Linked DNA regions of Homo sapiens: region 1 is linked to region 2. Evidence: fine-mapped QTL for protein levels in blood plasma. A gene starts in region 2. The other region holds a variant in brackets. All regions are shown on one strand. Distances are between the middles of the regions.

Region 1 (16,200 bases), 520 kb before region 2:
GAATAAACTTGAGTCTGGCTGTCCACATACCTAAATCACCCCAAAGTGCAGTAAAGTGCAATAATACAGTGGCTCAGAACGTCCTTTATTTCTTCAGCAAGAAAATCTCCATTCCAGTGTTAAATTCGCCAGTAAATGATTGGGTGATTTTGAGCAAATTATTGAATCTTCTAAGCCTCTTTCCTCATTGAAGACTAAATGAAATAGATGCTGCGCACCTACCAAGATAACACTGTATTATTTGTGGGAAGTTGTGCTAGCTGAGTTTTTCAATCACTATTTGCAAATTAGCAGGGGCTCCAAATATTAAAACCATGCAATATGGTTAAGATCTATGTAAGTACAATGAAATTTCTACATCCAACACAATCACACAAACATGACTGGATTTTCAGTGTTTGGAAGATACTTTGAGGATGAATTCACTTAAAATGTAGACAACATGTCAGGCAAAAATGGACTTTTTGAGTTCTGTGGAGACACTCAGTAGAATCCAAGGCATGTAAAACTGAACAGTCAGAAGCCTTTGTAAATGCATTTGAAAGAGACAAGTCATGTTTATTAAGATGCTATGAAAAAATGAAAACAAAACTTAATGACTTCATATATGAGCTTCCAATTTTTTAAAAAAAGCCTCTAGGGTAGGCCCACCTAGTTGCAGGCTCTGATTTGCAAGAATGCTGCTCTTTACAGGACACATTTGTGTAGCTGCTCCCCGGTGGGTCACAGCAGGAATGTTATTTACTTAACCATGGGGAATGGTTTTTCAGAGCAACCCCCAAGGAAGCCAGAAAGTAAAAATGTCTTCATTATATAATGGTATCATAGTCTTAGAGTTAGAACAAATGCTTAATACCATCTACTCTGAGCTGTTTATTTTCCAGATTTAAAATCTATGGCCTGTATGTTAGGTGCCTCTGTTAACACATTCTAGGAGGTTGATGGAGGGCAACTGCAAGCCCTTAAGTTGAAGTTAATTCTAGTCCCCTCTGTGTTTCTCTTTGAGCCGTGCTGTCCAGTGTGGCAGCCACAGGCCACACAGGGCTTTTGAGTTCTTGAAATGTGGCTAGTTTGAGTTGAGATGTACTGTAAGTATAATGTACACATCAAATTTCAAAGACTTAGCATCTGGCTGGGTGCTATGGCTCATGCCTGTAATCCCAGCACTTTGGGAGGCTGAGGCCGGCAGATTACTTGCGGCCAAAAGTTTGAGATCAGCCTGGCCAACATGGCAAAACCCTGTCTCCACTAAAAATACAAAATTTAGCCAGGCCTGGGGGCATGCGCCTGTAATCCCAGCTACTCGGGAGGCTGAGGCAGGAGAATCACCTGAACCCGGGAGTTGGAGGTTGCAGTGAGCTGAGATCATGCCACTGCATTCCAGCCTAGGTGACAGTGAGACTCGACCTAAAATAAAAAAAAGACTTAGCATCAAAGAAAAAAAAAGAACAATATCATTAATTCTTTTTTCTGATTACATATTGGAATGACAATATTTGGGATGTATTAGGTTAAATAAAATATATTAAAATTAGTTTCTACATTTTACTATTTTAAAAAACGCAACTACCAGAAAATTTAAGTAACATCTATGGCTCACATCTAATTTCTTTTTTATTTTTTATTTTATTTTTCTGAGACAGAGTTTTGTTCTTGTTCCTCAGGCTGGAGTGCAATGGCGCAATCTTTGCTCATTGCAACCTCCATCTCCCGGGTTCAAGCAATTCTTTTGCCTCAGCCTCCCGAGTAGTTGCGATTACAGGCATGTGCCACCACGCGTGGCTAATTTTGTATTTTTAATAGAGACAGGGTTTCACCATGTTGGTCAGGCTGGCCTCAAACTCCTGACCTTGGGTGATCTGCCAGCCTCTGCCTCCCAAAGTGCTGGGATTACAGGCATGAGCCACTGCGCCCGGCTTTCACATCTAATTTCTATTGGACAGTTTTAACTTAGATTTCCTATGACAAAGTAAGTAAGGTAACCAGAAACACAAAAAGATTGACAGTCATGTAAAAGTTAAAAAGATGTGGTCAGAAATAAAGGGAGAGAGGGATCATGGAATAAACGGGTGTGAATTGGTGTAGTCAGGTATGAAATCCTAAATATGTTCTCAATAAGGGGCTACTAGCTCATCTTTTAGAAACATGGAAAATTCACTGAAGGAAAGGGAATGGAAGCATCTCATTCAGTGTTTTCAGGGGCAAGACCTCAACATTTAGAGGCTACCAGCTGTTCTCCTTTCGAGGTGTCTTTCTTATTCTATAGGGAAAAAAAACTATTACATATATGTTATAAGCCCTGAATTGCATGCTGACAAATAGGTTTCTCTATAGCTTAAGGATATAGGCAAAATTTTAGTAAAGGTAAGTTATTTTTACCTGAGACATGCCTAATAATGGTATATATTTTCATATATTTTCTCTTTTTTAAATCATACAGCAAAATAACTTTTTGTATGTCTTCTAATACACACACTTATAGGTAATAGCAGCAGACTTAGTAAATGTGATACTGTAGATTGGGCCACTCACTGCTCAATACAGAGTTTCTTGTGTATAGTTATAGCTAATAGTTTTCATTTTTGATGGAGATTTGTCAGATTTGTGTGTGGAGGTGGGTTGGGGGCGGTTAGAGACAAGGTCTTACTCTGTTGCCCAGATTGGAGTAGAGGGGTGTGATCATAGCTCACTGCAGCCTCAAACTCCTGGGCTTAAGCAATCTTCCTGTCTCAGCCTCCCAAGTAGCTAGGACTACAGGCATGAGCCACCACACCTGGCTGATTATTTTTTCTTTTGTTGTTGTTATTTTTTTTGGTAGGGATAGGATCTCACTCTGTTGCCCCGTCTAGCCTTCACTCTTGGCCTCAAACAATCCTCTTGATTCAGCCTCCAAAATATTTCTATCAGGTTTAAGATGGAAATGGAAATGCCTACCATTACTCATTTTGCATTGCAATAAATAAGCTTCATTACCAGTGGAAGCTTATTAATTTCTTTGTGGAAATGCATTCCTTGCTGATTAATTTCCCCTTTCCTTCATTTTTAAACTGCAAAAGATTTGTTTCAAAACCCAAAGATTAGGTATATTTCATTCTTTATTGAGCAAGTAACAAAAGAAAATACATTCACATTATTCAGGAAGCAATCATGAAGATACTTTATAGCTCATTTGTATCAATATCAAACTAATTTAATGACAAGTCAAACATCATGCCCTTTAATCATGGAAAACTGTAAGGTATTTCAGCTGAATAAATTAAGAGCAATTAACAAAAAAATGAGCTACACACATGAAGCTCATTATTTTAGGTTGAGGGATCCTTTCAATTTACCGGGATTATTTTCTTTGATGTGCCAGATGCCTGTTTTGCCCAACAAAAATCAAAACACTCCAAAGCATAAAAGTATGTACCCCATGTGTTGTTTAAGATGGACTTGATAACTAACATTGGACATTAACATTTGCAGCTATTATTCCTTGGTGAATAAATATTCCTTGTCCAAAGGAAAGATAGAAATATTCAAAATAATAAAATAAAACAAATCGGATTCAACTGTACAATTCATGCTGGAAAATTAGCTAAGATTAGGAAGAAAGAGGTTGAACATTGGTCACAAGTTGTCTGATAAAAGGCACAGATAAATGACATGCTGCTAGTCTTTTGTATTAGACAAAGAGAAACATGTTTCATACATCTGCTTGCTTTGAGCAGAAATCTTTTCTAAGCGTGTATAAATTTTCTAAAATTTTTCATAAAATATGTAAATATTTAGTAACACTGCCTCAGTGTTCCAATGGTTATACCAATGATATTTTTCAATGTTGGTTTTTAATGCGCCTATTAAAGGAAATTCAGGTAATTACTATCTTTTTCTTTTGCCAATGAATGAGATCAATAGCATGGATAATCCAAAACAGTGGGTGAATTTAAAAATAAATTGGATTCTACGGTGCACCATACTCTTGGTCATGTTTATACACATGGATTAGTGTTATGTGTATATGTGTTGAAATGAAACATCTTATATGTACACGTTAAAGTGTTTGCATTTCCTGAGATGTGACAATCAATCATTGTAAGGACAGAAATCTTGGAAACATTTTGGGTAACTAATATGTGTCTGCCATTTATTCAGATTTTCCAAAAATATTCTTGGAGCATCTTTTACCATTATAGGCTATTAGGATGTAGTCATGATTAAAATAGTCTACTTGAATTATATCCAGAAGGTAGAGCTGTTAAAATTATAAATAATCATCATGACAATGTTAGATTCTTAGAATACATAGAGCAGCAATGGCATTATTTCCCAACATAAGCCCCAGTTGGGACAGCCTCTCTGAGGAAGTGATTTTGTTTTTCTTAACTGTTTATTTTGAAAACATGTCAAATCTACAGAAAAGCTGCAAAAATGGTATAATGAACTCCCATATTTCCTCCACTTTGCTTAACCAATTGCTAACATTTTGCCCTCTTCTGTATGTCTCTATCTCAATTTTGTTGTGAACCAATTAAGAGTTACAGGCATCTTGACCCTTCTAAATCCTTCAGCCTGTGTTTGCTAAGAACAGTGCCATTTGGAGCATCACCATGACACAATATTACATTTAAGGCATTTAACATTAATACAAAACTAGAATCTCAAAGCAATCCATATTCTAAATTTGCCAATTGACCCAGAACTGTCCTTTTTAACAGGAGGAAGTGAATTTGACTAATAACCAAATGTTGAGCCCGACATAGCCTCATAAAAGGGATTTATGGGAATCAAGAAAGAAGGAACAGAAAATCCAAAGACATCTACATATTTGTATACATTTATTTTAAAAAGCATAGACCTAGCCAATATTCTTGGGATAATATTAACAATAAAATGTGGCTTGAAATAGGCTAATTAAAAATGTTTAGTGTAAAATTACATGTAATAACCTTGTAAAAATTGATACTCACATATTATTTCTATTTGGTTTTCCTCCATTTTACCCATGTACTCTTTATTTGCTTCTTGATAAAGTCAGTTAAAGCAATCTGCCACATAGCTCCATGTGTGAGATTTAGGAAAATTGTTGCCTGCAGAATTTCAAATATGGATATGAGGCATTTGGAAGCAATTTCTGATAAGAGAGTACCATAAATTGCTACCCTAAAGTACATTGGTCACATTACCCAACCAAATGTTTTTACTTAAACAAGATTCAGAGGGAGGAGGGATGTATTCACCACAAAACTTAATGGACTACAGTGCCATTACTTATTAAATAGACCTATTTATATGAAAAATGAACACTTAATGTATACATGCAGATAATGTAATCCCCTTTATCTTATCTATATACATGGAAGATTCTTATTACCATCAATCTGGTGGTCCCTTTTTGCTCATTCCATTTGCTTGAGAACTGTGTCTGGATTAATAATGAGTATATTTCCCAAAATGAGCATAGACAGAAGGCAAACTGGCCCTTTCCCAAGGACAAAGATAATCTCTCTAGGACTTTCAGAGGGACCAAAAGTCAGTTGGCCCTCATTGGGATCATGGAAAGTTTTTAACATCCTTCGTGTCCAGCAGAGGAACAGCCTGAATGTCTGGTTCTTTCTAACCTTTTAAAATGATAAAATAAATCCAAAGTATTATAGGCCATCTGGTACTTACAAGGCAACGTCTCCAGATAAGTCTGAGCAAAGGGCAGGCATATTACTCCCCTTGGGAGAGCATTTTGGTTATATTCATTCTATTTCTCTTGCTTGATCATGACCAAAGATATCACAAAAACCTCCTCTACTGATACAGTCCCCTTTTTTCACTCTTGAAATTGTCGTTATTCTTAATTATTGTCTAGATTACATATTTTTTAAAATTATCAAAATAAAAGCAAAGGTGATGATAACTCTAAAAGATATGTCACATACATATTTTAAATCTTACAGACATTTATTGCAGCATTGTAAAAACCTACAAAATGCCCAAAAGACCAACAAGAATAGAATGAGTAAATAAATTAACTTAATAAATATTAGCGAGATTAGTCATATTAAAGGGGAACACAGATGATACACACCTATGCCAAAGGAGGGCCATGATTTACAGAGTGAGGGGGAAAGAATACAACAAAACAAAAACCAGATAGCCAATTGCAAAATTAGAGTAGTCCTTTATTTTAAAAAGAAAACAAGCACTGTATGTGCTTATGTGTGTGCCAGTGCATGGTTATTTATATGTATGTATACACGTGTATGTGTGTATAGGTCTGTCTGTGTATAAATGAAGGAAGTCTGGACAGACACCAGCTAAGCTGTTGAGAGGAGTTCTCTAACCTGAATATGCCACTTAAAAAATAAAAAGCTGTATTAGTCTATTCTCACACTGCTATAAAGAACTGCCGAAGACTGGGTAATTAATAAAGAAAAGAGGTTTAACTGACTCACAGTTCCGCGTGGCTGGGGAGGCCTTAGGAAACTTAGAATCATGGCAGAAGGCACCTCTTCACGGGACAGCAAGAGAGAGAATGAGTGCCGAGCAAAGAGGGGAAAGCCCCTTATAAAACCATCAGATCTCATGAGAACTCACTGTCACAAGAACAGCATGGGGGTAACTGCCCCCATGATTCAATTACCTCCCACCAGGTCCCTCCCATGACATGTGGGGATTATGGGAACTATAATTCAAGATGAGATTTGGGTGGGGACACAGCCAAACCGTATCACAGAGATGTAATCGTAAGGTGATAATATGATTTGGCTCTGTGTCTCCACCCAAATCTCATGTCCAGTCGTAATCTCCATTGTTGGAGGTGGGGCCTGGTGGGAGGTGATTGGATCATGGGGGCAGTTGCTAACGGTTTAGCACTGTCCCTGTAGTGCTGTTTCATGATATAGTTCTCAGAAGTTCTGGTTGTTTAAAAGTGGCACTGCTCCCCTCTCTCTCCTGCTCCAGTCATACGAGACGTACCTGCTTACCATTCGCCTTCTGCCATGATTGTAAATTTCCTGAGGCTTCCCCAGCCATGCTTTCTGTACAGCCTGTGGAACCATTAGCCAATTAAGCCTCTTGTCTTTATAAATTACCCAGTCTTGGGTATTTCTTTATAGCAGTGCGAGAATGGACTAGTACAGTTAGTATAAAGAGCTGGCAGTTCAGCAAGTACCCAGTCTAGCCCCGTGTTCTTGGAACATGTGCCTTATTAAATAGGCAGTGAAAATTGAATCCAGATTAAGCTCCCTGAGTCTTTTAAGAAATGGTAATTTGGCCAATTATTTAATTTAAATTAAACAAAAACAGCACAATACCACCCACCTACTTTCCTCTTAAACATTTGGATATTTTAGCACAGAAAATCTGAGATGATTTAATTACCTCACTTGCATGTTGTTGACAACTGAAGATGAGATGACATTCATTTAAATTCTAAGCTTAATTTATTCCAGGCCATGTTTTTACCAATTTTCATTAATGGTAATGTAAGAAAAGGTTCAAAACTTATAAACTAGATTTTCACAAAACTAATTTTGAGTTGAAAGTTGGAGTATAATCTCATCATTGGGTTACTGGAGAGTAGGGCAAAGAGAAAGACACTGACTAGTTGTGACTATTATTCTTTTTTGTACCACTTTTTCTGTGGATACTTGTGTAGTTAAGTATGACTTCTAAGGTTGCCTTCTGCTGCCTTTTGGTTGTTTTCCAAAGCTTAGAACAGGACAAGAGGAGTCCTTATGATAGGAATCCTATTCTAAGTAAAGTTCTCACCAGCTGTGCGGACATTATGACCCTGGAGGTTCTGCCAGAGGTAGTTCATTGCTCACATATTACTTGCATAAGATTCTAGCTACATGAAGGGCTGGTAGATCAGGCTATTGGAGGGAGAACAGTAGCTGTGCTGTGTATTTTATAACCGCACACCACAATGGAAAAATAAAATAAGGTGCGTCTTTTTTACCTTCAGCCAACTGAGACGAAGATTTTCTTAAAAGGACCATTTTGGGAACTAGACCTATGCCCTCCTTAAGTTTGGGGAACACAGGAGTTAGTATCTGATGTTCAATGGAAGAATCTAAAGAGGAAGGGAGAGGGTAATAGAGCAAAGAGAACAAGGTGCATTGCAAGCTGACTGTACCTTCATTAAATGTAGAGCAAGAGAGTGTGGACCAGACATTGCCTGCCATGCCCGAAGGGAGCTGTTCCAGGGCTGTCTTCGAAGAGACCCAGCCAATGAGGCAGGAGAATGGCGTGAACCCAGGAGGCGGAGCTTGCAGTGAGCCGAGATCGCGCCACTGCACTCCAGCCTGGGCAGCAGAGCGAGACTCTGTCTCAAAAAATTAAAATTAAAATTAAAATTAAAAAATAGAAGAGACCCAGCCAAGAGGACCAGTGTCCACCGAGGAAGAAGTCCAGTTGATGATAAAGAAGGCATTGTTCTTGTCAAGTGAACAAGTTTGGACACTCCAGAAGGACCCCTCTAAGAGATTTAAGAATACCCTAGAAATTGGTCCTCCACTCGGATGAGATGATGGTCCAAAGCCAGATTACAACAGTTCCTTCATTGACATGGTGCTTTTCTTCACCAAAGGAGTGCACAAGACACCTTTCTGAAGATTTCACAATACTTAAAAAAAAAAATGAACTCTCCTCAGAGTGTCTTTTATAAATGTATGAGGTAGAATAAAAAATTAAATAAGCAGTAGAAACTTATTTAAGACAGTTCCACTCTGGCAAGACCTTTATTTTTCTTATTACTCCTCTCTCCTCCATGCACCCAACCCTATAGCAACCATACGTAGCTGCTGGTGAGGAGGAAGGGACCCTGAGGAAGAAGGAAGAACCCAGTCTACAAGTGAATGGAGAGAGAGAAGAGTTAAGATTGCTGAAGGACTGGTGGTTTA[C/G]TATAGCACGGATGGAGCTTTTTATTTACCAAAATGACTCTTCTTCTAACTGAAGGAACATTAAAAAAATGACGTGTTTTGCAAAAGACTTAATCCAGGATAGAAAAGGGGATAGCACAGAAGAGGAGTTTGAAGGAGCAGAAGAAAAAAAGAATAAAATTATTTTCTGTTCACACTCTGCCAAGTCCAGTTCCTTCAATCCATAGATTATAAATTACTGTTTTAAATGAGTTTCTACCGCTACATTTATAAAAAACTCTGAGCAAGTCTTCATTTTTTTTTTTTAAGTGTCGTGAAATCTTTCAGAAAGATGTCTTCTGCGCTCCTTTGGCAAACAAAAGCACAATATCAATGAGGGCATCTCTTCTACAAGGAAAAGTCATGTTAAAAAAAGGACTGCATCGGCAGACATTCGGGACACTATTAAACCCGTAATTCCTTCTATTATGAATAGGAATTATGTGTGAACATCAAAAGAAAAACGAATTCTGCCTGGCATGCTATCATTTGCTATTGAGAGATTCTGGACTTTAATCATAAACCTTGAAAAGAGGCCATCACACCATTCACAAAGGGGAACCTTGGTCTGGACCGTTCAACAGAGTTAGAAATGATACCTGTGTTACTTGAAAGAATCAAACAAAAGAGCCTCCAATTAGCAAGCATTCCATTTTGCATTTTAGTATATGTATTTGTGTATTACCCCAAAAGCAAGTCATATACATAGATGTCAGAATTTGCAAACTCACAGCCCCAGGGATCACTGTTTGCCAGAATGGTGTTTTGTTTTTGTTTTTTACTCATGTTGTTTCTGTTTTATGACATTTTTTTATTGAGGTGTAATTAACATTCAATGCCAGATATATTTAAAAAGTAGAATTTGATAGAATTCTGTGTATGTGTATGCCTGCAAAATCATCACCACAGTCAGGATAGTGAACATATCCATCACCTCCAAATGTATCCTCATGCCTCTCTGTATTAGCTCTCTCCTACCTAAGCAACCCTCAGTCTGTTTCCTATCACTGTAGGTTAGTTCTCTCTAAAGGTTTATAAAAATTGCATCATACAGGATGTATTATTTTTTGTTCTCTTTCACGGAATATAATTATGTTGTAATCCATCAGGTTTTAGCAGGTATTAATAGTTCATTTCTGTTTATTACTGAGTAGTATATCATTGTATAGATATACCACAATTTGTTTACCATACCTATTGATGGATTTGTGGGTTATTTCTATTACTTGACTACTGCAAATTGTTTCTCTGAATATTTGTGCACAAATGTTTGTATGAAAAGAAGTTTAATTGGCTTATGGTTCCACAGGCTGTACAGAATAGCATTACCTAAGAGAGAATAATGTGTACATTTTTCTCTCTTAGGTAAATACCTAAGAGTAGAATGGCTAGATCGTATGATAGGTATATTTAGGCTTTTAAGAAACTGTTAAACTGTGTTTCCAAAGTGGTCGTGACCTTCTAATTTCTAATCACCATTTTATTAGTGTTCTAATTCCTTCACATACTTATTGTTTGGTATTGTCAATTTTTAAACTTCAACTATTGTAATAGGTTGTAGTGGTACTCATTGGGGTTTTAATTCACATTAATAATAATATTGAACATCCTTTGATGTGCTAATTTACCATCTGTATATCTTTGGTGAAATCTGTTCAAATCTTTTGTCTGTCGAGTTCTTTCTTTTCTTACTGAGTTTGGAGAGTTCTTTATATGTTTTGGACACACGTACTTTATCAGATAGGTGCCAGTCGTTTTGTTTTCTTCATGTAGTCTTTTGAAGAGCGGAAGTTTTTAATTTTGAAGTCAAATTTATCACTTTTTCTTTAACGGGTTTTCCATGTTCCTGCCTTTTGGAGATTACTATTTGTTAAGCATGCCCAATGCTTTGAAAAATATTGCATTAAGTATTATCTCTGCCCAGGTTTTTTTTTTTTTTTTTTTTTTTTGTTGTTTCAAGGGGGTATAGTGAATCCAGTTTCTATTACATTTTAGCCAGCTGCAGAAGGTTGGTTGTTACTTTAAGTTTTTCTGGCCAATATTTAACAATACACAGACATATAAATATCTACATAATTAGATTCCCTTGAAAATTATCTGGCCATGCAGTGGTCACATCCCTGCACAAAACAGGCTGGAACAGTGTGACCTGCAGTTTGGTTACCTATTTTCCCCATTAAACTTAATGAGTCCACTGGTAGAAAATGATATTAATGGCAACATGGTTACTCAGCTTCTCTATGTACCCAAATATAACCGTTTATCTAGGTAAATTGCATGGGCAAAGAGTTTTAGTCATTTCATTAAAAAATCATCCCTTACTATTAAATGGAAAAAAAAAAAGCACATCTGATTAGAAATGGTGAAAACTATTACCTTTATTTGCAAAGAAAGGAAGAATGGACATTTTTAGTACCAGGCATATTAGTACCAGGTATTTTAACACACAATATTCAGTAAAACCAATGCATTCAAGTCCTAAAGCAATGCTATGATTAATTCATTAAAATACATATTTATTAGCACACAATGCACAAGAGGAACTGCCTGATGACGGAGGTGGGCATATAGAGTGTTCGGATATAATTATCATCTCACAGGTGCAGCCTCCCGGCAATTCTGGAAGACTTGCAGCCTGTTCTTGCAAGCCCTGTTCTTCCAGGCTTGGGAGCTGGTTAACTTATGAAAAATATAATTATTCTTTTCAATGGAAATTGCCTGAGGGTGATACAGATTGGACATATCAGCCTTCATTCTAATTTGGTAGTTTTGCGAGTATTATCCAATTGCTTCTGAGACAGGTCAAGCTATCTCCTCTGGATGTGTGGACAGAAATACTTTCTCTATTTAATTCCTATGAGGTGGTTTTGTAACTACTCCCACTTATTGTTCAGCCTGGTTACTGTGCCAGGACTGATGAGAGGTATAAAATAAACAACAAGCAACTCTTAAAGATCAAGCCAATTTGGACTTAGGGCCTGGCACGGAATTAAGTCATAGTAAACTAGAATGAAGCTGAAGCTTCACGGGCTTTTAGGGCTGAATAGACTTTTTTTTACAGGCACAGAATTATGTATGTCAAAGAGTTCATTTAAGGTCAGAAATAGGTCTTTGCATTCAGTCTTAGCCTTGTATATATGATCAGTAGTCTCTTCCTCACCCTGCCGGTCTCTTTCAACACAAGGGCAGCTCATACTAGTCCTTATAAGCAGGTAAGAGATTGAGTTTTATCCTAAAGTAGTAGAAAGCCATGAATGGTGGTGCCTGCATGTGGCTTGATCAGACTGTGTCTTGAAAATATCCCTCTAACTCCCAGACTCAGGTTTTACATGTGTTAAGAAAAAAAACAATTAATCATAGCACAGGTGTAGTTATAAGCACTAAATAAGAGAATTCATGTAAAAAGCCTAGCATATTGCCTGTTTGTAACCTAGACCCACAACAAATCTTGATTGTAAATATTGAAGCATGTATATCTTTGCTTCTTTACTCACTCCTTCACTACACTGCAGTTCCATGAGAACAGAGAACACATCTAACTTAGCTGACTATAAAATCCAAGTGCCTAGCACAGAGAAGGAAATGAGTAAACACTGCCTGAAGGAGTGGATAAATGGATATATGTGAACATCCAGAAAATATGCTGGGAGACTTTCTTTCATTGAACTCATCGCAATCTTATGCGCGTGTGAATATTTGATTAAGGTCTGGATCCTGCACTTGACTATAGGCCCATAGAGGCAAACATTGTGTTTTTCCTGCTCACTCATTGCTGCTTTCTGAGCATCTAGGGGTGTCTGGTACATAGCTTTTGATTGTAAGTATTTGTAGAATAAATTAATATAGTGGGTGCCCCTGTTTTACCGGGGGATGCACATAGTCTTTTAAGTGGTAATTGAGTAGTTATCTTGATAAACGTCTATCTCCTCCCCTAGTGCGTAAGTTCACTGAGGGTGGGATCCACTTGTTTTGACCAGCCCTCCAGTGCCCAACACAGCACCTGTAGCATAGAAAATATCTAATATATATTATGGACTGGATAACATAGTTCCCAAATGAAAGATAAGTAACATGCTCAATTAATTTCATATTCAGGAAGAGTTTTGGAAAGAATTTATGTTCCATTGACTATTTTATTTTATTTTTGGAACAAAATATTGAACAATCTGGAGGTGAAAAAAAAATTATTCTTTGAAAATTCACACTTTTGAGAAATCTCAAGAGGCCCTTCTTTCCCCTTGGTATTAAACAAGGCCAATGATATTACCAAGCTGAAGCTAAACTGGCATGAATTATTCAGAGCAGCAGGAAAAGCAGCTGCTCATCCTCTCTGTCCATAATTTTGAAGGGTGGAGAATTGGAGGGCAGCACTGACAACAACAGGGGGGAAGAAAAGATAAATTGTTGCCCTAAACCTCATAAGCTACAACATCTGCAGCACTATGTTTAATTTGGAAGCAGAGTCCACAGTGTCTGCCATAGGTAACAAGGACAAAAAATGGTAGAAAGCTTATGAATGTGTGCTTGGATAGCAGGAGAGAGAGAGACTGAGGAAAACCAGGAGGGAAAGGAAGAGAAGGGAATGGGGAGAGACAGAGGAGGAAGAGACAAGGAGAGACAGCCATCCACCCTAGAAGGCAGGAGGAAAAATTTGAGTTGAGGAACTTCAGGGAAATATAAAATTTAGAGATGGGTATAAGAAAAATATTTTCAAATTAAAATGTGCTATAAAATTAAAAGAAAAAGATCTGGCTTTAAGCCTGGCTGCAGTGGCTCATGCCTATGATTTCAGCACTTTGGGAGGCTGAGGTGGGAGGATCACCTGAGGTCAGAAGTTCAAGACCAGCCTGGCCAACATGGTGAAACCCCAGCTCTATTAAAAATACAAAAATTAGCCAAGCATGGTGGCATGCACCTGTAGTCCCAGCTACTCGGGAGGCTGAGGCCGGAGATTCACTTGAACCCGAGAGACAGAGGTTAACTGAGCCAAAATTGCGCCATTGCCCTTTAGCCTGGGCCACAGAGCAAGACTCCATCTTTAAAAAAAAAAAAAAAGGGGGGGGGAGGGGAAGATCTAGCTTTGAACTGAAGAAATTCCCTGCCTCCTAGATCATTTCTACCTCTTTGACACAGAGGATGTTTTTGAGTATTTTAGAGATCTTGGGGTCCAGCAGAGTGGAAGACAGGAAGGTGCTATGGGAGAGAGGAAGGGGTAGGGAAGTTGTGGCTGCGACTATAAATATTGGGAATTTTAGAACTAGGATGCACTTTAGAGGTCCCACCATATGGTCCTGGGTTGTAGAATTTGAGACATGTCCGATTTTCTTCTTGATTAAAATGACTTTTAGATGATGGATATATTGATCTATATAAAACAATCTAGGACCTACAAAGTTGTATTTAAATCAACCTGAAAACTTTCTGACCACATCATCTGCTGCCCTTTGTTGAAATTCAAGAGCAGACTGTCAGTCAGTAATGGGAATAGAGCCGAACATGAAATACAGTGCTTTTTGGTGGAGAAGGGGCATGTGATCAGTGTCTCTGTAGAGACAGCACTGTGAGGTTAAGAAACCAAGTAAGGCCCATGCAGCCTTTCATAAAAGAAAATGTGAAATAAAAAGAGGACCTACAAGGCATGAATCCTATTACATTGGTTGAAAACAATTTAAAGACAAAATTAGAAGTCACCCTTTTTTGACAACCCATAAACACATACTTACATGCATATAAACATATGTATATACACACATTAAACATTGATAGAATTTCTCTTTTTAAAGCAGTGGTTTTCAATCAGAAATGGTTTTCCTCTCAAGGAACATTAGACAGTGTCTGAAGACATTTTTGGTTGTCACAAATGAGTAGGGAGAGGTGTTATTGGCGTTGGGTGGGGACACGCTAAGGATACCATCAACATCCCATAGTGCACAGGACAACAGGAATGGCCTGGCCCCCAGTGTCAGAAGGGGAGAAGTTGAGAAACACTCAAGGAAGAGGAATAACAGAGAAATTATCTTAGTAAAATAGCAGAAACTGTCATTATTGTGCCAAAGCCTTGTGTTTGAGTCTTTATGACCTGCATGACTAATTCTCAAAACATTCCTTAAAAGGTCATTGTTAGCATTTGCTTAAAGGGAAAGGAAATCTAGGAGAGGTTAATTATCCAAAGCCACTTTGCTCTAAGGAGGAAATACAGAATAGCAATTCAGGTTGGTTGTACTCACACAGCTGGCCTCAAATCCCTCATAAGGAAGGTGCTATCTTTGCAAAGAAAACTACTTTGATAAAAGAGGTGAATTTTAATGAATAGGCCTCAGGTAAAGATAGAGGCGAATCCATAGGAAAAAAAAAAAACTTGATTTGAACTGCAGAACAAAATAAGTAATACTTTTTCTCTCTATAAAAATACAGTAAAATAGATTTTTTCTCCCTTCCAGTTTGGCTGAGGCAAAGAGACAATATGGAAAGTACCTTTATATTCCAAAGTGATATTCCAAAAGTCAAACTTACAAACTTACAGGTAGTTGGAAACCACTTTTGTGTATCCTGTTCCAGCTGTAACTGAAGCTTGAATGGCTGAGACAGAAGAGTTGGAGAGGAGAGGAGGATTTTAGAGAGAGCCATAGGTATACCGTGAGTCTTGTCACCCCAACTAGGAAGGCATGGAATACTTTTCTGTCACCTCAATCCTAGCGAAAGAGGTGGAGGCTTCATGTGTTTTTGAGCTTGTGGGACAAAGGAGGCTGCTGTTGCAACTAGGCCTGAGAAATGTGAAAGGATCATGTCTCTGCACAGTTAGCCACTTGGCCTTACAGTTGCTGTGAAGGAATGGCCTTTGATCCCCAGGTTTGCCACAACAAAAGTGCATGAATGCTCACTGGTCAACATGGGTGGCATCTCAGTGACAGAGAAGGACCTTGGGTTGTCTTGCATCCTAACCAGGAGTGTTACCTGGATAGATGGCTCATACTCAACTGAAAGGCTGAATGACCAGAGGTTGATGGAGGAATCCTGAGCTGATTATTATCTGAGACTATTGGAGCTAGAGATGATGAAAAAGCTGGAGCCAAACCTCTAATGTCTCAGAAGAGACCAAAAAAGGAAACAGAACTCTCCTCACGTGTTGGGTGGTACTCATATCCACTATGTTCTAATCTAATGGGTCTGAGACTTTGCTGGCCTCTGGATTAACTAAATACAACAATTAATTGACAATCAAGATCTGATTATTATTTTTTGAGACAGAGTCTCGCTCTGTCACCAGGCTGGAGTGCAGTGGCACAATCTTGGCTTACTGCAA
Region 2 (16,200 bases):
TTAGAGTTTTCTAATCCTTAGACCTGGTTGCCAGTCTTTTAAAACTAAACAAATAAAATTCCACATCTGTAACTAATTCAGTAATCCCAGGAAATGAAATTCAGAATAAGTCTTGCAGACAGCTTTTGACTGTTACATTTAAGCATAGGTATTATCTGCTTAGAGTCCCAATCCAAATATACTGAAACAGACACACACAAATAATCTGTGAAATTTTGTATTGGTTCAGACAGGCTAGAATCCTTAGAATCCATATCCACCCATGAGAAACCAATAAAAGACATCAATCCAATGATGAAAAAATGATCTTCCAATAACTCAGGAGTGGGTCATCCCTCACCTGGATGAACATCATGGAGAAATTGAATCCTATAGGGGGAACACCAGAAAGCCAGAAAACGTGGAATACTGCCAGCCTCCAACCAAATTACCTTTCTCCAGTTTTAGGTAAACCTTATCCTCTTTATCTAGGTAGAGCAGGACACCATTCGTGGCAGCTTCACGAGTAACATCTTTGTCCCCCGCAAAGGCAGATATTACTGGTTTTCCATTTAACATCAAGTTAACCTAGAAGAAGAAAAATAATAATAATTGAAAAGTTCTCTTTAAAGTCAAAACATCTACTGGGGAGAATAAATAATGTCTAAGATGATAGACCCAGTAAAATACCTGATGTTCAGGAAATATATTCCCTTCCTTTCAAATTAGCCAATTGTGGGGGCCATACTTCACATGTCTGCTGAACTGATTTTTTTAATTTTTTTTTTCTGATTGGAATTTCCTTAAATTCCTACAAAAGAATAACATCTATGGAGACCAACCTAGCCATGTGAAAACTAGCTTCCCTTCAGCACATAAATTAAGCTTACTGCTTTACTTAACTCTTCCACCCAACAATAATCTTTTGGAAATAGAGCAGGCTTGTGGCTTCCCGGTACATTCGTAAAAGAGACCCTCTGCCCACTGACATAAGAGACCCAGATACAACCCAATCCTACCAACATCCTTGCGAATTTTTGTGCAGCTGTAACATGCATACTACTGAAAATCAATTGAAATAATGAAGTTTGTGTATATATGTGTCTGTGTGTGTTTATTTCTTTTTCTATTTTCCCTGATAGGAAACAAGCATCAAAAACAATCATCAGGCCAGGCATAGTGGCTCATGCCTGTAATTACAACACTTTGGGAGACCAAGGCAGGAGGATCACTTGAAGCTAGGAGTTCAAGACCAGCCTGGGCAACATAGCAGGACCTCATCTCTAAAACAAACAAAACAACAAATTTAAAAATTAGCCTGATTGGTCACATGCACCTATAGTCGTAGCTTCTCAAAAGGCTGAGGCAGGAGGATTGCTTGAACTCAGGGGTTTGAGGCTGAAGTGAGCTATGGTTATGCCACTGCATTCCAGCCTGGGTGAAAGAGTGAGACCCTATCTCAGAGAAAAACCAAAAAATAAAAAATAATAATCACCACTATCACTGATTTTAGTGATTTTAGTGATTTTAGATTTAGATTTTAAATTTTAGAGATTTCAGTGACAGATAATTAGAATCAACTCAAAACTGTATTAACTATTTTCTATTCTTCAATTTTGATTACACTGTGTCAAGCATTGCATACATTTCTAAATATTGGGGGTTGGGAAAACTTTTCCATGGAAGTAAGTTTGTTTTCTAGATTTTTTTAGGTTAAAAGTCATATGGAATAAATTAAATCTGAGGCTGATCCATTTATCCATTTACTAGGACATGTAAAAGTATTAATAGATAAGCATGTAATCTATCATTCATATTGACATAATGTATAACATAAATACTGAGCATAAGATAAAAGGTTATCTTAGAATTCCATGCACATGTATTTGTGTCATTTAGTATTAGCATACTGGAATATTGTTGGAACAAGCTCCACTGTTGCTTTTGAATGTAAGGTCAAGCCCATTGTCTTAGAAAGCAGAACACAAAATATATTAACTGTGGAACTGCAGTTGGTAAGAATTCACTAGCATCAGAGTAACTGAGGATAAACACAAGCATACGCATAGAACACCGTTTTTTAAAAATGTATTTTGAATAGTTCCTCCTTCATAGACTTATTCTTACTGATTAGCTGTATCTCATAATTTTAAAAAATAGCAAATGTGTTTTATTTATTTAGTATGCACTTGTAAAGCTGTACTAGTCTTACAAGTTTTTTTCTTATGAGTTCAAGTAATTCTTGTACATGCATTAAATGAAAGCATGATCTTACAAAGAGATTTGTGTCACTGAATTTTTACTCAACCATGGATTTTTAAAAAATGTTTGATTGTTATTAAGGTAATAACTTCAATTCTCTATTTTTCTATACGCTTTTTGTCACGTCTTAATGGATGTTAAAGAGAAAAAAATTAGAAATTAAGTGTTTTAAAATAAATGATAAAGATGGCTGCTTATTTCTATTGTGGAAACACAACTTTGGATAAGTACTTAAATATATAACCCACTAAAGATAAGCACAGTTGGTTGAGAGTATGGATGGAAGAGGTCAAAACACACACCTGGATAGTTTGGCTCTGGTAGACTTTAATCACGTGAAAACTGAAACTGTAAATTCCTTTTCTTGGTGCTACAAAGACAGACTCCAATGTGAAAAAATTACCCACATTCACCAGGATCTACAAATAAAAATAATAAATAACAATAAGTTATTATATTTTCTTCTGTAACTAAAATGAATTTTCTTCCTCTCACTCTCTTCCTCTCCTCTTCCTTCTTTCCCTCCTTCCTTCATTCCTTCCTTCCTCTTTCTTTCTTTTCTTTTTTCTTTTGTTCATTCATTCATTCTTGGCAACTAGCTTAAGAAATCATAGAAAATAAAACATCTAGTTCTGTATCTTTCCTCTTAACTGATTTGGAAAATTGACTGGAATACTGGAAGGTTCTTCTGTCTTTTAAATGATATAAGAATAAATAAAGTAACTGCTTTGTATTCATGTCTCAATTTCCAGCAAGGCCCAATGGCTCTGGAAACATCGAGCTAACATTTGAGAACTTATAAATATTAGCTTTACCTTGAGAGTTGGATAAAAGGCACCCGCTATGTGTTTACATTCCCACCTTCTACAAGCCTTTGCAATGTCCAGAGGTGACGTTTCCAAGCCAGCCAATCAGCATCTGTGAGCTCTCCGCAGCATCCCTGGACAAACCACAGAGGCATGGGTACCCCCTCCACCATGTGACATAATCCTTGACACTGAACAGTTGGTGCACAAAGTGATCTGAATGCCTGGCCCTTCTCTGAGCCACCACCACCCCTCTCCTAAGATCTGTTACCATTTTTTTTTTCATTCCTGTGCCAGCTAGGCCTTAATTATAATAATGTGGCAATGAGTCAGCCCTTGTGGGCTGCCAAAGAGGAGAGCATAGAGAAGGCTAAACTATGAAATAGGTGGCTTTCCCTGTTCCTCCCCGGGCTGTCCATTAACCTCCTATCAATCACCTGCTCTTTATTTGAAGTTCAAGGTTCAAAAGTGAAATTAGATACTGTTTCCCAAGAAAGCAACAATGCATTTTGTATTCCAAAATATTCAGCCTAGTTCTATTGGTTATAAAATTAACTCTAAATTTTAATAAGTGACCTCTTAAGCTAAATTTGCAATGTCACATGGGTAAGTCTCTTTCTATGAGAAAGAGGGATTGGGATGGAGGATGGATGTTAAAATAACCAGGGTTTGTTCCATTTCTTTCCAAGAAATACACCTGTAAGTGGCATTCAAAAATAATAAGAGGTCCCTAAAAAGATATACTTCTCATATATCAATGGCAATCTGCTACTATCTCTTTCGAACACTGCATTCTTGCCAATATTAACACACTTGCAAGCCTCTTGCATAATTCCCTAAAAATGTACTATTACCTCTGGGCAACATACCAGAATGTAGTGACAGTCAAGCAGATGTATCAGGCTCAACACCTAACTTAAAACACATGTACGTGTATAATTTCATTCTGAGATTTCGCCTTCTTCCAAGTAAGCATCAGATTTTTTTTGTAACCTGATGATAGATGGTCTTTCAACAAGTCACCAGCTGTGCAATAATCCCCAGCAGAGGCTTTACAAAGAAATTTTTCAAGCACAATTAAAATAATTTGAGGTGCTTAGTGGTGACTTCCTGATTCAGATACAAGTAGCATAATTCATTAGCAATAATGAAAATAGCTGATTAGTGTTGGCTACATATAAAACTGGATGTTGACTCTACACTGTAATTGGAGCATCCAGGTACATCGAGATTTATAACCAAATGTGTGTTCTTGTCTCTAAGATGCAAGGCTCACTGAAAAGAAGAACAAACCCTTTTCCTCTTCTAATTGATGGAAAGGTCATTGAAAGGAACACCCTGTATAGAGGATAGTGCAATGCCCACAGTATTCCAACATTTAATTAAAGCATTGAAATACAAACTAGGGGTGGTGCTAGACTTTATTTCCATCAAGATGGAAAATACTGCACCAAAACCCCAAATGGAGCTACTTAATTCTTTAAAAATTATGTCTATCAAATACTAAGCCCCTAGAGAGGCATTCTCTGTCTTTGGCCAGCTGGAGAGTGCATTAGTTAGGAAAAATTAAGCAAGGAATACAGATGTCACCTCGTGCTTTCCCTGGCACATCCTGCAACACCACTTAACCTGTGCCCCCTGCACATTGCAGCTTTGCATACAACTGTGAACTGTGAATTTGGAATTTAAAAAGACTCTGGATACTGTTGGGGCTGAAATTAAAAACTCTGAGGACAGTTTTCTCCCTTAAGACCCCTTGCTAAAGGTAAGCTGATATCCTGGGGTTTCTCATCAAGCCAAACACGGAGCACCAGGTCGCTAAACAGCAGCTACAGCTTCCGTCAGCTCTTCCCCTACTCTCATCAACCTCAAAGTCTGTCTTTCCCCAGCTATTTGCAATTCTCTGAAAGGACATGAGCCCGGGAAGGGAGAACTGGCTCCCAAGCGCTTTCCTACAGGAGCTCAGCGCAGTTGCCAAATTCCTTTTCCTCCCCTCCTCCGCAACTTTTCTCTAAGTACCGGAGAAGGGCTTGCTGCCTACTCCGAGGCAGCGGCAGTGCCAGCGGTGCCTGGCACACGAACAGTGGAACCTGCAGGCGAGATCTGACCCCCGGCTCTGCCCCCGCCCTCCGCGGCCACCTGCCCGATCTCTGAAGAGTGTGGAAGCCCGGGGCTCTCTTGGGAGAGAAGCTTCTCTACCTGGGAGAAACAAATCAAACATTTATCCTGTTCCGCAAAGGTACCCAGGGAGCAGCCTCAGCGGCACCCGCAGAGGAGTCTGAGCAAGGGCACCAAGATCTGGCCAAGAGATAACGACGTCCAGGGACCAGGTGCCCTTCGGCTCCCGCCGACCTGTTGCTCGAAACTTGCCCTGAGCTCTCGCTGCCGGGCTCTGGGCTCCCAAGCCTCTCCCCCGCCGCCGCAGCAGCCTCTTTTAGGGGCCCGGAAGAAATGGGAGCCGGGGCTGGTGAGAGGGGTAGGAAGAGGGACGGTAGAAGTTTCAGACCCAGGCATATTTGGGAAGGCGAGTGCTTTACATGATTCCCCATTTCCCAATCGGACCAGCTTAGCCTGGGCAGGCAGCCTCGTGCTGAGGTGCCTGGAGACCGCCCACCCCCTAGGTGCTCGCTTCCCCCCGGGTCTGACCTGATCGAAGTAAATGATGCGCGTCTTGTTGCTCATCTCGGATGGCTCGTGGTTGGTGCTCCGCACCGCCGAGAAGGCGACCTTGGAGTTGGCCGCCCGGACCGATATCCCCAGCGGGGAGGAAGAGGAGCCCTTGGAGTCCGTGGCCGGGTTCGAGTCGCACACCACCAGACACTTGCCCTCCAGCACGATGGGCTCCGTGTCGTTCTGTGCCCAGACGGGCAGCCCCGGCAGCGTGAGGACCAGCAGCACGGCCGGCACCGCGGACAGCGCCCGGCGCCCGGAGCCCATGGTGAGCCGTGTGGGCAGCCGCAGCCGGCTGGCGCTGGTGCTCGCCCGCGTCGCCTCCTACCCCGGGATCCCGGTGCTCGGGAAGATGCTAGCGGCTAGGTCGACAGCGCTGCAGGAGCGACGGCGGCGGCGGCGCGCACACTTCCACCAATTCTGTGGCTTGAAGTCAAAGTCTCCCCTCGAGCTCTCTCGCTGGCTCTGTTACCTTTGTCCTTTAAGGAGCTCATGCAGCACCCTTTACCCTACTCTCCTCCGCCCAAGAATCAGCCCTGCCTGGGGCCCCTGCACCCACTCTGGTTCCTAGACATCTGAAAGTCATCAAACCCTCACATTCACACCTCAAGGCAAAAAATAATAATAATAATAAATTCTCACCCCAAACTCAAGCACCACCAGCTAAACCACGGAGCAGGAACAAAAAGAGGGGACTCAAAGAGAAGCCACAAGGGTGGCGGGTGCCCAGCGGCGCGGGTGCCAGTCCTGTCTGGCTTGCGGCAGGGACGAGTTACAGAGGCAGAAGGTCCTTCCCAGGCTGAGAAGAACGCGAGGCTGTGTTCATGGCCAGGACGCCAGCGACTCCCACTTTCGCCTGGTCAAAAAAATCCCCCAAACCTGGTGTCACCCAGAGGTAGGGAGGGAGGCAGCGGCTAGCCAGGTCCCTCGCACCGAAAGCGCGGATTCGCAGGATCAGGTCCAGGGCGCCGGGCGCAGCGTTCAGGGCGGCTGGTCCGGCGGGGTCCTCTCCTGCCTGGCCGCCCGCCCCCAGTCCCTGCGCACAACTTTCTCGTCCCTCGTGCAGCCCGGAGAGCGCGAAGCGGGCACACGCGCTCTATTTATAGGAGCGCAGCGTCCGGCTGGGTTGGCTTATCGCGCAACCCGCGGGCTCCGAGAAAAGGGGGAGAAGGCGTCTGGTGACCCCATCTGAGCAGCTCTCTCCTGACGTTTAACGCACCCCAAAGCAAGCGGGGCGCACAGCACTGGTGATTGGCAAGGTTCGAGGCCCCTCAGCCCCTGAAAGCCCGTGGCGTAAAGGATGCGTGCCCAGAGAGGAGCCCACGGCCCTGCGCTGGCCCCAGCTCCGCGCCCACTCTCTCCTGCTCGATCTGAGTCCGCAGAGGAGGCGGCTGGTCCCCTCACCCCTCCCAGCGCGGAACTCTGCCGCCGAGTGCCCTCCAAGCGGAGCGCGGCGCTGCCAGGCCGGGTCGCGAAAAAGGATAAGCCGCCGCGGACCCGCGCTGCGCGCTGCCCCGAACCTGGGGACCGGCGGGCGTCCCGACCGCGCCTGGCCGGGAGCCCGCCCCACACAGCCCTGGGGCCTGGCGAGCTCAGGGAAGCCTTGGGGCGGACCAGAGCCCGTGGGGGCGGCTGGGAGGAGGTGCCTGATTCCTTCCTTCCGCTCCGGGAAGATGAGCCTCAGAAGCCGCAGGGGCGCGCCTTCCCCCCACACCGCGAATCCTCCCCAGGCATGGCCAAAAAAAAGAGTGGGAGAGGGAGTTAACTCAGCAAGAATAAGTCCTCCGAAACCGTGCCAACAACAATAAAAAAATAAAAATAAAAATAAAAATAAAAGACAATCCCACTCCTAGGAATACAGCATTTTTCTCCCCTTTGGATGCGCTTTCCGCCCCCGTGCCACTCCACTGCTATCTTGGCCTCTGATTTGCAAGAGTTCCCTTCCTCTTCTGCAGCTACCACGGGGAAGGGAGGTTTGTCTCTGTCTGGACCCGGCTGCGTGAACTTGGCCGAGTCACTAACCCTCTCTGAGAGGGGGGCGCGGCGTTAACTAAGGTCCTCCCCACCCCCATCCCGCCAGCTTTCCAATTCTGTGATGCTGTGGGGTCATGGCGCCCCTTCCCCAATTTCTTCTACACTTCCAGCTGCCAGAGGGCAGACACGTATGGTATCTTTAACCAAAACAGTATCCCCTCCAGGCATTCGGAGCTCCTAAAATGGCATTGGCTAGTTATGAATGGAAGGGATGTTTATTGAGGGAGGTCCTTGGGATGGACGGCTCCCATTCCTTCCTGAGTGAAGGACGCCCTCATGAGCGTGGCATTCGAGCCCTCCACAAAACAAGGTGAACCTCGTCTCCAGCCTTTTTCCCTTCCTTCAGAAGGGCCGGGCATTGAGCTATAAGCACCAGCTCCAACTGTTAAAATTGAAGACACTACGAGGAATCCCCTAACCCTCACCTCCCTATAATCTCTCAACTAAAGTGTTAATACTTGGTGCCACAGGGGCCTTCAGATTCTGCTCCAGTGGGGCCAGTATCAGGTGTTTTGACTTTATGATTTTATTTTACTTGTGGTGGGGGGTGGTCTCGCTATATTGCCCAGGCTAGATGCAAAACTACTGGGCTCAAGCGATTCTACTACCTCAGCCTCCCCAGTAGCTGAGACTACAGGCCGGTGTCAGTTCCGGCTGGCAGGTGCTAGTACCATGCTATTTGTTAAAATGTTGAAAGTTACCTATCTAAGCTACAACCAAACAAGGTGAACTAGTGCCTTCTGAAGATGGCCACCATTTACCCAGCTTTGATGCCCCACCCTAAGCCCAGCACAATCTTCACCTGATCCCTCTCTGCACTTTGTAACTCTCTTCCAGATTTTAGGGATGTCTGCCTGGTTAACAGCAGCAATTTCTTCTCATTTGATGCAGTCTTTTGAGGGTGGGTGCTGAGTTGAATTTAGTTCCTTTTATTTCCTGTAGGGGTAAGCACCCTGCCTTCCTTGTCTGGGACAGCTGTTCAATAACTAGAACTTTGGTTGTTCAATTTCAGGCTGGGAGAAGTTTGACAAAAAAAAAAAAAAAAAAAAAAAAAAAACTGTGTTGAATTGTTAAATAGAAAATAAGCTATCTTCCTCACCAATTCCAATATATTCTCTCTACCTCCTTTTCTTCTCCAGGCACTTCCTGCACGCAAGAACTGAGATTTGAAGAAACCTATTCTTTCTCTCACCAAAAATATTCATTTTTAGTCCCAAAATCTGCATAGTGACCATAGTAAAGACTCAATAATTGAGAAATGACTGAATGCTTCCTAATAGAAGGTAATTATCACTCATATTATAGTATAAACTGCTTTAAATGAGTCTCTCTCAGTAAAATTTAAATTCAAAGCCTCCTTAATAATTGGGGATAAGGGTCTCGGTTCCTTACTAAAGGATGTTCTGCTCTTCAAAGTGTTCTGAAGATAAGGAACACAGCATTTTCTGTGGACCCCCGCTAAGAGAAGTTATCTTATATTGTGAATCAGAGGGTCCTGACTCTTTTTCCCACAACAGTTGATTAAACACGGATAGCCCCTGGGTTCTAGGACCATCAATGCATTTGATACCAGAAGTCCAAGATTTGTATGGTCCAACTTGGCCAGATGACTTGGGGCTGCCAGATTTTCTCTCTGCAATCTTAATGAGACATCAAAATAGCTTCCAGTAAGCACTACATGTGGCAGAGACAAGGTTTGTAGTCTCCCAAACTGACGTGGCCATGTAGGAGTCATCTGCAAGCTGAAGCAGAAGAGGTATTGGAATAAACCAGAGGACTGGCCACACTTGTAGAAAGAAGCCAATTCTGGAGCATGAGCACTTCTAAGAAGTACAGGGAGTGAATAGTCAATCGCCAGTTCTGAACTCTTGCTTACAAGAGTTCCAGAAACATTTTCTCCTAACCTTGGGTTTCTTGGTATCCTCCTATGTCTTTGAAATAAAAACCCAATTCCCTTGAGCTAGTTTTAGTAACATACCGCTCCCTGTCATCCAGAATCCTCATTAGAACATTGTCCCAGAAACCATACCACAAAAGGCTATGGATCTCTTGCCAAAAGACTAACAAATCCAATCTCCTGCCTGTAGGAAATGCTTTTCCAACATTTTGGGAAAGGAGGCATCACCTGTTCCTCACCCCCTACTTCAGCCCCAGCATCCCCAGGAGAAAAGAAACAAGATCAAGTTTAAGTTTCTCTCCAACCACAGCATAGATCTGTTTTTCTTTTTCTTTTTCTTGTATTTTTCCAGTTGAAAATATGCTATTAGAAGACCTAGCAGTGACCCAAATATTTTCCCTTTCTGAGATTCCCATATTGTATTTGATGCCTAGGATTTTTTTTTTCTCCTAGACCTTTAGAGATGACGCAGAAATGCATTTCAGTTCTCTGCAGCTGGGCTTAACTTTAAAGTAAATTAGAATCTAAACTATCCTTGCATAGGAAAGCAATACTTCTGAGGTCAGTAAATTCAATGACTGCTTGTCCAGCCATCCTTTAGAGAAACCAAGTTTCAAGCAAGCCCAAGACAGTAAGGATCTATGAGCTATTTTCTGACTGTGAAGAAAATGTTTCTGAGAAGGCAAAGACAGACACACACAAGGTATTCAGCTCTAAGGGCCTCACTGTGGTTGAATGAAAGCAGACTCCATGCATCATGCAGCAGAGACAGCCGCAGGTCAGTCGTGCAGAAGATGGAAAATCGAGAGAGAGAGAGCAGTGAGGCTTGCATCATACCCAGACAAAGTTCCACTGAGTTGCTTAATTACCCTTTGCTCTTTATAATGATAGTTATCAGCCCAAGCTAATGATCTTTTTTGAGGGAGAGTAAGTAGCTTAAGAAGAAAAAGTCTTGGTGGGACTGTAAACTAGTTCAACTATTGTGGAAGTCAGTGTGGCAATTCCTCAGGGATCTAGAACTAGAAATACCATTTGACCCAGCCATCCCATTACTGGGTATATACCCAAAGGATTATAAATCATGCTGCTATAAAGACACATGCACATGTATGTTTATTGCAGCACTATTCACAATAGCAAAGACTTGGAACCAACCCAAATGTCCATCAATGATAGACTGGATTAAGAAAATGTGGCACATATACACCATGGAATACTATGCAGCCATAAAAAAGGATGAGTTCATGTCCTTTGTAGGGACATGGATGAAGCTGGAAACCATCATTCTCAGCAAACTCTCTCAAGGACAGAAAACCAAACACCGCATGTTCTCACTCATAGCTGGGAATTGAACAATGAGAACACATGGACACAGGAAGGGGAACATCACACACCAGGGACTGTTGTGGGGTGGGGGGAGGTTGGAGGGATAGCATTAGGAGATATACCTGTTAAATGACGAGTTAATGGGTGCAGCACACCAACATGGCACATGTATACATATGTAACAAACCTGCGCGTTGTGCACATGTACCCTAAAACTTAAAGTATATTAGAAAAAAAGAAGAAGAAGAAAAAGTCTCCATGAACAACCAATATGTGAGAACTTACATAGTCTGGAAAGTTCCAGAGTCATGTTGAGTAAATCTTCATAGCTCCTTCTGGAGACAGCCAAATGACAGACTTGTTTCATATGAGGATGGTATTGTGGGAAAAAAATAGATGGATGCTGTAAAAAATACTTCTCAATTGGTTTTAGAATTTGAAAATTGTTTGGGACAGTTTTTCTAGATAGTTTATTCCACTCACCCCATTGGCAAATAAGGTACGTGTCTAAGACATCAGTGAGAAGTGAGACGTCTTGGTCATGGCTGCAGACAGGTTTTGATGCCCCTTTTTGGCTTCCCATGATACCCTGAGCATGTTCCAGTCATTATATTTATCATAATGGTTTTAGTTGATTTATTGTTGTGTTTTCCCTGGACCATTAACTCTTTGGGAGGACAGAATTTAGCAGAGAGTAGGTATGCATAAATAAAGTTTACTGAATAAAGTAACATCATTGCTTTTAGTTCTCATAAGGGAAACAATATAACATTTAATCACTATGATCTAAGTATGATAGGAAAAGTAAAATTATTTCAGAAATGTTGGGGGCTTAAAACGTCAAGTCCACCTTAGTTACTAAGAATGGAAGCCCAGTGAGAAAAGGTTTTGTGGAAAGGGCCACATCTTGAAATGTGTTGAGTTGAACCTTGAGACTGTAGTAAAATCTTAGAAAGAACCTAAAAAATTCTCTCTCTCTCTCTCTCCCTCCCTCCCTCTCCCTCTCTCTCTCCAGTCTCTCTCTCTCTCCCCGTCTCTCTCTTTCTCTCTCTCTCCCCCATCTCTCTCTTTCTCTCTCCCCACTGTCTCTCTCTCTCTCTCTCTCTCTCTCTCTCTCTCTCTCTCTCTCTGCTCTCTCTGTGTCCCTCCCTCTCTTCCCCTCTCCTGGGCACATCTTCATTATTCTTTGGCTCACTGCAATCTACCGTTCTCTGAGGCCCGCATGAGGGAAAATGGCAGCTGATACTTCCAGATTTCACACATAACAAAGCCATCCACTCAGAGATGCCCCCAGATCCCCGAGAAGAGATGCACTGCAGCCATCTGCGTTCAGATGCCCAATCCCAAACCAATCAACTTGGCTGTAGAAACAGAATCATGCTGCACACGTGACTGATATCCCAGCAATGAGGTGTGTAGAAAATTGGGGCGGGGCATGGGAAAAGGAAAAATCCTAGAAAGCTAATATAAGCAATATGTGGCAAAGGGAAGAAGAACAAGAGGCAGACTAATTTGTGTTGTGTGATTCCAAGTTAATTCCCTGCAAGTGTGTACAGATATGTGTGTATTTCAATACACAGAGAATACAAGTTGGCAACAACTTGTCAAATTTAAAGGAATTGAATAGAAGGAAACACTATTAATTGTATTTCAGATGTTTCCTTATTATATATGTGCTCACAGCAATTGTGTATTACATTGTGATTCACGTTTGAAAATTTTTTGTTTTTTGAGGTGCAGTCTCGCTCTGTTGCCCAGGCTGGAGTGCAGTGGCATGATCTTGGCTCACTGCAAGCTCCGCCTCCCGGGTTCACGCCATTCTCCTGCCTCAGTCTCCCAAGTAGCTGGGACTACAGGTGCCCACCACCACGCCCGGCTAATTTTTTTGTATTTTTAGTAGAGACGGGGTTTCACCATGTTAGCCAGGATGGTCTCGATCTCTTGACCTCATAATCCTCCTGCCTCGGCCTCCCAAAGTGTTGGGATTACAGGCGTGAGCCACCGCGCCCAGCCCACATTTAAAATATTTTTTAAAAAAGAAAGGGTTTCTGAGTAGATCATCCAATAGTGATCTATCACATTCACACTTCTTCTCCATAGTTTACTCTTAATTAAAGTTTAAAAAGTGGCATTGATTGAACAGCAATCTCCCTTTTTTGTTATACTGATCCGACTCTAAAAATCACTTACTCCAAGTTTAGAAAGATGCTCTGATATAGAAAGCCTCACAGTATACATTTAAGAAAAAAAATTCCATTGCAACTAGTAACACTGATGCATGCTGTCAAAATTTCTCGCTACATTTTATTCAACTTGGCTTTCTTTATATAGTATGTTAGCATCTAGGAAAGCCATAGCTCAGTGCTGGGTGTATGACATGTGCCTGGCCACTCGTGTTTATGTTGTGTAGATAAGAAGAGTCTAAATGTGGGGTCCAAACCAATGGCTACTTGTAAGAATCAGCTGGGATGCTTCTTTCCAACAGAGACTCTCTGGCCTTACTCTGAGATAATGGCTCTGCCCATGAACTGGGAAGGTTTACTTAACCAGCACCCAGGTAAATCTGAAGCAGATGGTGTTTGACTTTGTAGATGCCATTGGCGTGATGCCACAAGAGTCCATTTGCATTCGGGTTTTTTAGCTCTATGGTTAAAAACAGGGTGTTTAGAGTCAGCTCTACCTCCTACTAGCTTTATGACCATACAGCAAGTTACAAACCTTCCTTCATCCAAGAAAATTGCAATCATGAAAATCATATTCAGTCCATAGCTTCTTGTGAGAACTGAGTGGGGAAATTTGGGCAGAGCATTTAGCTCTGCACCTGGCACACAGGAAAGGCTCAATTAAGGGTAGCAATTATTATCATTAATCTGTAGACTCTACTAATGACTAAAGGTGTCAAACCACCACACTCTAAACCAAGGCCCATTAACTATTGGCAAGCAATGGCCCAACTTAACCTCACAGACATTATAATAGGGGAAAACGAAGTGTACCCAAGTGTGAGAGACAATCCAGGTTCAGATGCCCAGAAAATAATCACACCCGAGTTTGCAGGGCCAGCCATTGCTGATAGATCAATGCTTATCATTATGCAGAGCTAAAGCTCTTGAATGAAGCGAAGACACCAGGCATGTTTGTGAGCTCCCTACAGGGGATGAACAACAGGTTTAATTTTATTTTTATTTCTTTCTTCCCATACTCTCAATCATTATGTCTCATCTGAAAGAAGCATTGAGTGGAAATAGATGGATTCTTCAAAGTGGAAATTATACAGAAAGTCAAGAACAGCTGGTCAGAAACAGTCACCACAGAAACAGGAGTTCAGAAAGCCAGGTAGACACCAGAAAATAACACGGCAGTTGTTAAATATCCAGGAGCCAACACGGGCATCTTAGGAGCTAGTATGCCAACTATGGAGAGTCCTAGACACTTTTAACTTTCCTGACTTTAGCGCGTGTGGTTTGTGGGAAGAGAGAAAAATAGCTTCAGTCCAATAGGCAACTCTCCTCGCCAGGGCACTCAGTGAACATCTGTCCTTTGTAAGCGTGAGATGGGAAGTGCGGATCTGCTGTTGCTGCTCCATTCCTGCTGCCTCTCAGATATGAGCAGCTTGTGCCGTTGTGTGTGATTCTAGTGTTTAAAGGAAAGTATTTTCCTACAACATGACCACTAAAACAAGCCAACCACTTAATCTGATGTTCAGCTGAAGAAACAGCAATCTGTTTTGACACTGAAAGGAAAACTGGCTGCGGTGAGCTCTCTGAGAGCTGGTGTACCAGACACCATGGTGAGAACTTCAAAAGGATTTTCAAGGTAAGTTTGACTCTAGGAAATTTTTTCCTTGCGTACTAATTTTAGAATCTAACCCTGGAATGCAATGCAACTACATTTGTTTGTTTTGTTTTGTCTTGTTTTGTTTGGGGTAACCTCAATTGCTGATAATTTCTCCCACTGAATTCCCACCACTCATGTGAGAGGTAGATCTTGTTGCCACCATTTTACAGATAAGGAAATACAGCATCTGAAAAGCTGCTGCCAACAAACGGGTTAGACTTCATGGCTGGACATCTGTCTTATATCCAAAGGTCTTTCCCTAGACAATATGAGAAAAGTTGAAACAAAAATGCAAGGAGCTCCTAGAATGCTCAGAACTCATTATTTTGTAGTTGGTGACACCAAATTCAGAGGAGAAGCTGAGTGCATTCCAAGAAGAATTAATGTCAATAATGTGCAAGTGACAAAGTTCAGAGGAAGAAGACAGGCTTCATATCACAAAATTTTTAATAAAGGCTATTGACCATAAGCCAAGGTGGGGGAATATATGTTTTTATTACACTCACATGTATACATATTAAAATATTTAATATACTAAATATAATTAGATTATAATTAGATTTGATATATTAAATGTAATGAGATTATAATTTGATGATAAGTGGTTAAATTCTCCTACGCTCTTCTCATGGTTTTATGTGCCTTTCATTCCTAGTGGTTACCAGAGTTGAGATGTTACATTTATTTGTCTTATTTGACTGAAAGAATCTTCCCAGCCAATAATAAGCTCCATGAGGGCAGAGGTTGCCCAGGCTAGTCCCTGACACATGGTGCAGGTATATTAAGTGTTTGTTGAAGTAATGAATACGGTGACACCGCATAGATTCTAACTTTGGGTACCCTTTTCGAGTGTATTTCCAATTTTAACTAGACGGTCTCAAAAATTTGCTTATGTTTTCTCTAATTCTCAGTAATTATTTATGATGCATAATAACCCATCCTTCTTTACTTGGAAATTTAATGCACTTCTGGAAAAACTGCTGTAAGTAGCCCTTCCTTTCCCTGGATGCCCATTATCACAGCTGTTCCTTGTTTTCGCATTCCTCACACTGGGTTATGAGTATCTTAGCTTTGGCCAAGCTACCAGCTCAGCCACTTTCTTATCTACCACTGGGGTTAGCAGAGTAGCTCCTCTTTGCTAGGTTGTAGGCTCCATAAAGCAAAAGCTGCCCTGCTTTGTCCTTTGCTGCTAATTGGGGAACGGGGGGATTCCAGAAGCAAGCCTAATAGGGTGGGCCATGGCTTCGGAATCCACTAGCTTCCAGCTATTTTAGCTGGCCAAGAGCCTCCTGAATGACACACAATGCACCAAGTAACTTGACTTTCTTGGCCATCTGTCTGTTGGCTAAATAACTACCTCTTGGATGGACCAAATCATCACTTATGCAG

Which allele goes with the higher level. Alleles are on the strand shown, and positions count from the first base shown. The strength of an association depends on the size of the effect and on how common the allele is.
As copies of C replace G in region 1, the plasma level of the protein whose gene starts at base 7,332 in region 2 goes up (weak association).

Evidence for each region. A credible set is the group of variants that fine-mapping cannot tell apart. PIP is the posterior inclusion probability: the model's chance that the variant is causal. Protein levels are from antibody-based Olink assays in UK Biobank. Linkage for the fine-mapping came from a reference panel and not from the study's own genotypes, which makes the PIPs less certain.
Region 1: its variant is the best candidate, but not a certain one, in a credible set for the plasma level of the CBLN4 protein (UK Biobank, PIP 0.51).

The regions. Positions count from the first base shown.
Region 1 is chr20:55,473,751-55,489,950 of GRCh38, forward strand. No RefSeq gene overlaps it. Among named protein-coding and RNA genes, the nearest start is that of LINC01441, 55 kb to the left of the region's middle. The variant C/G (reference allele first, on the strand shown) is at 8,880.
Region 2 is chr20:55,998,188-56,014,387 of GRCh38, forward strand. It overlaps CBLN4 (cerebellin 4 precursor), which reads right to left and starts at 7,332. Exons shown (of 3, transcript NM_080617.6): 1 at 5,694-7,332; 2 at 2,544-2,660; 3 at 1-567. The coding sequence starts at 5,984. The coding sequence ends at 370.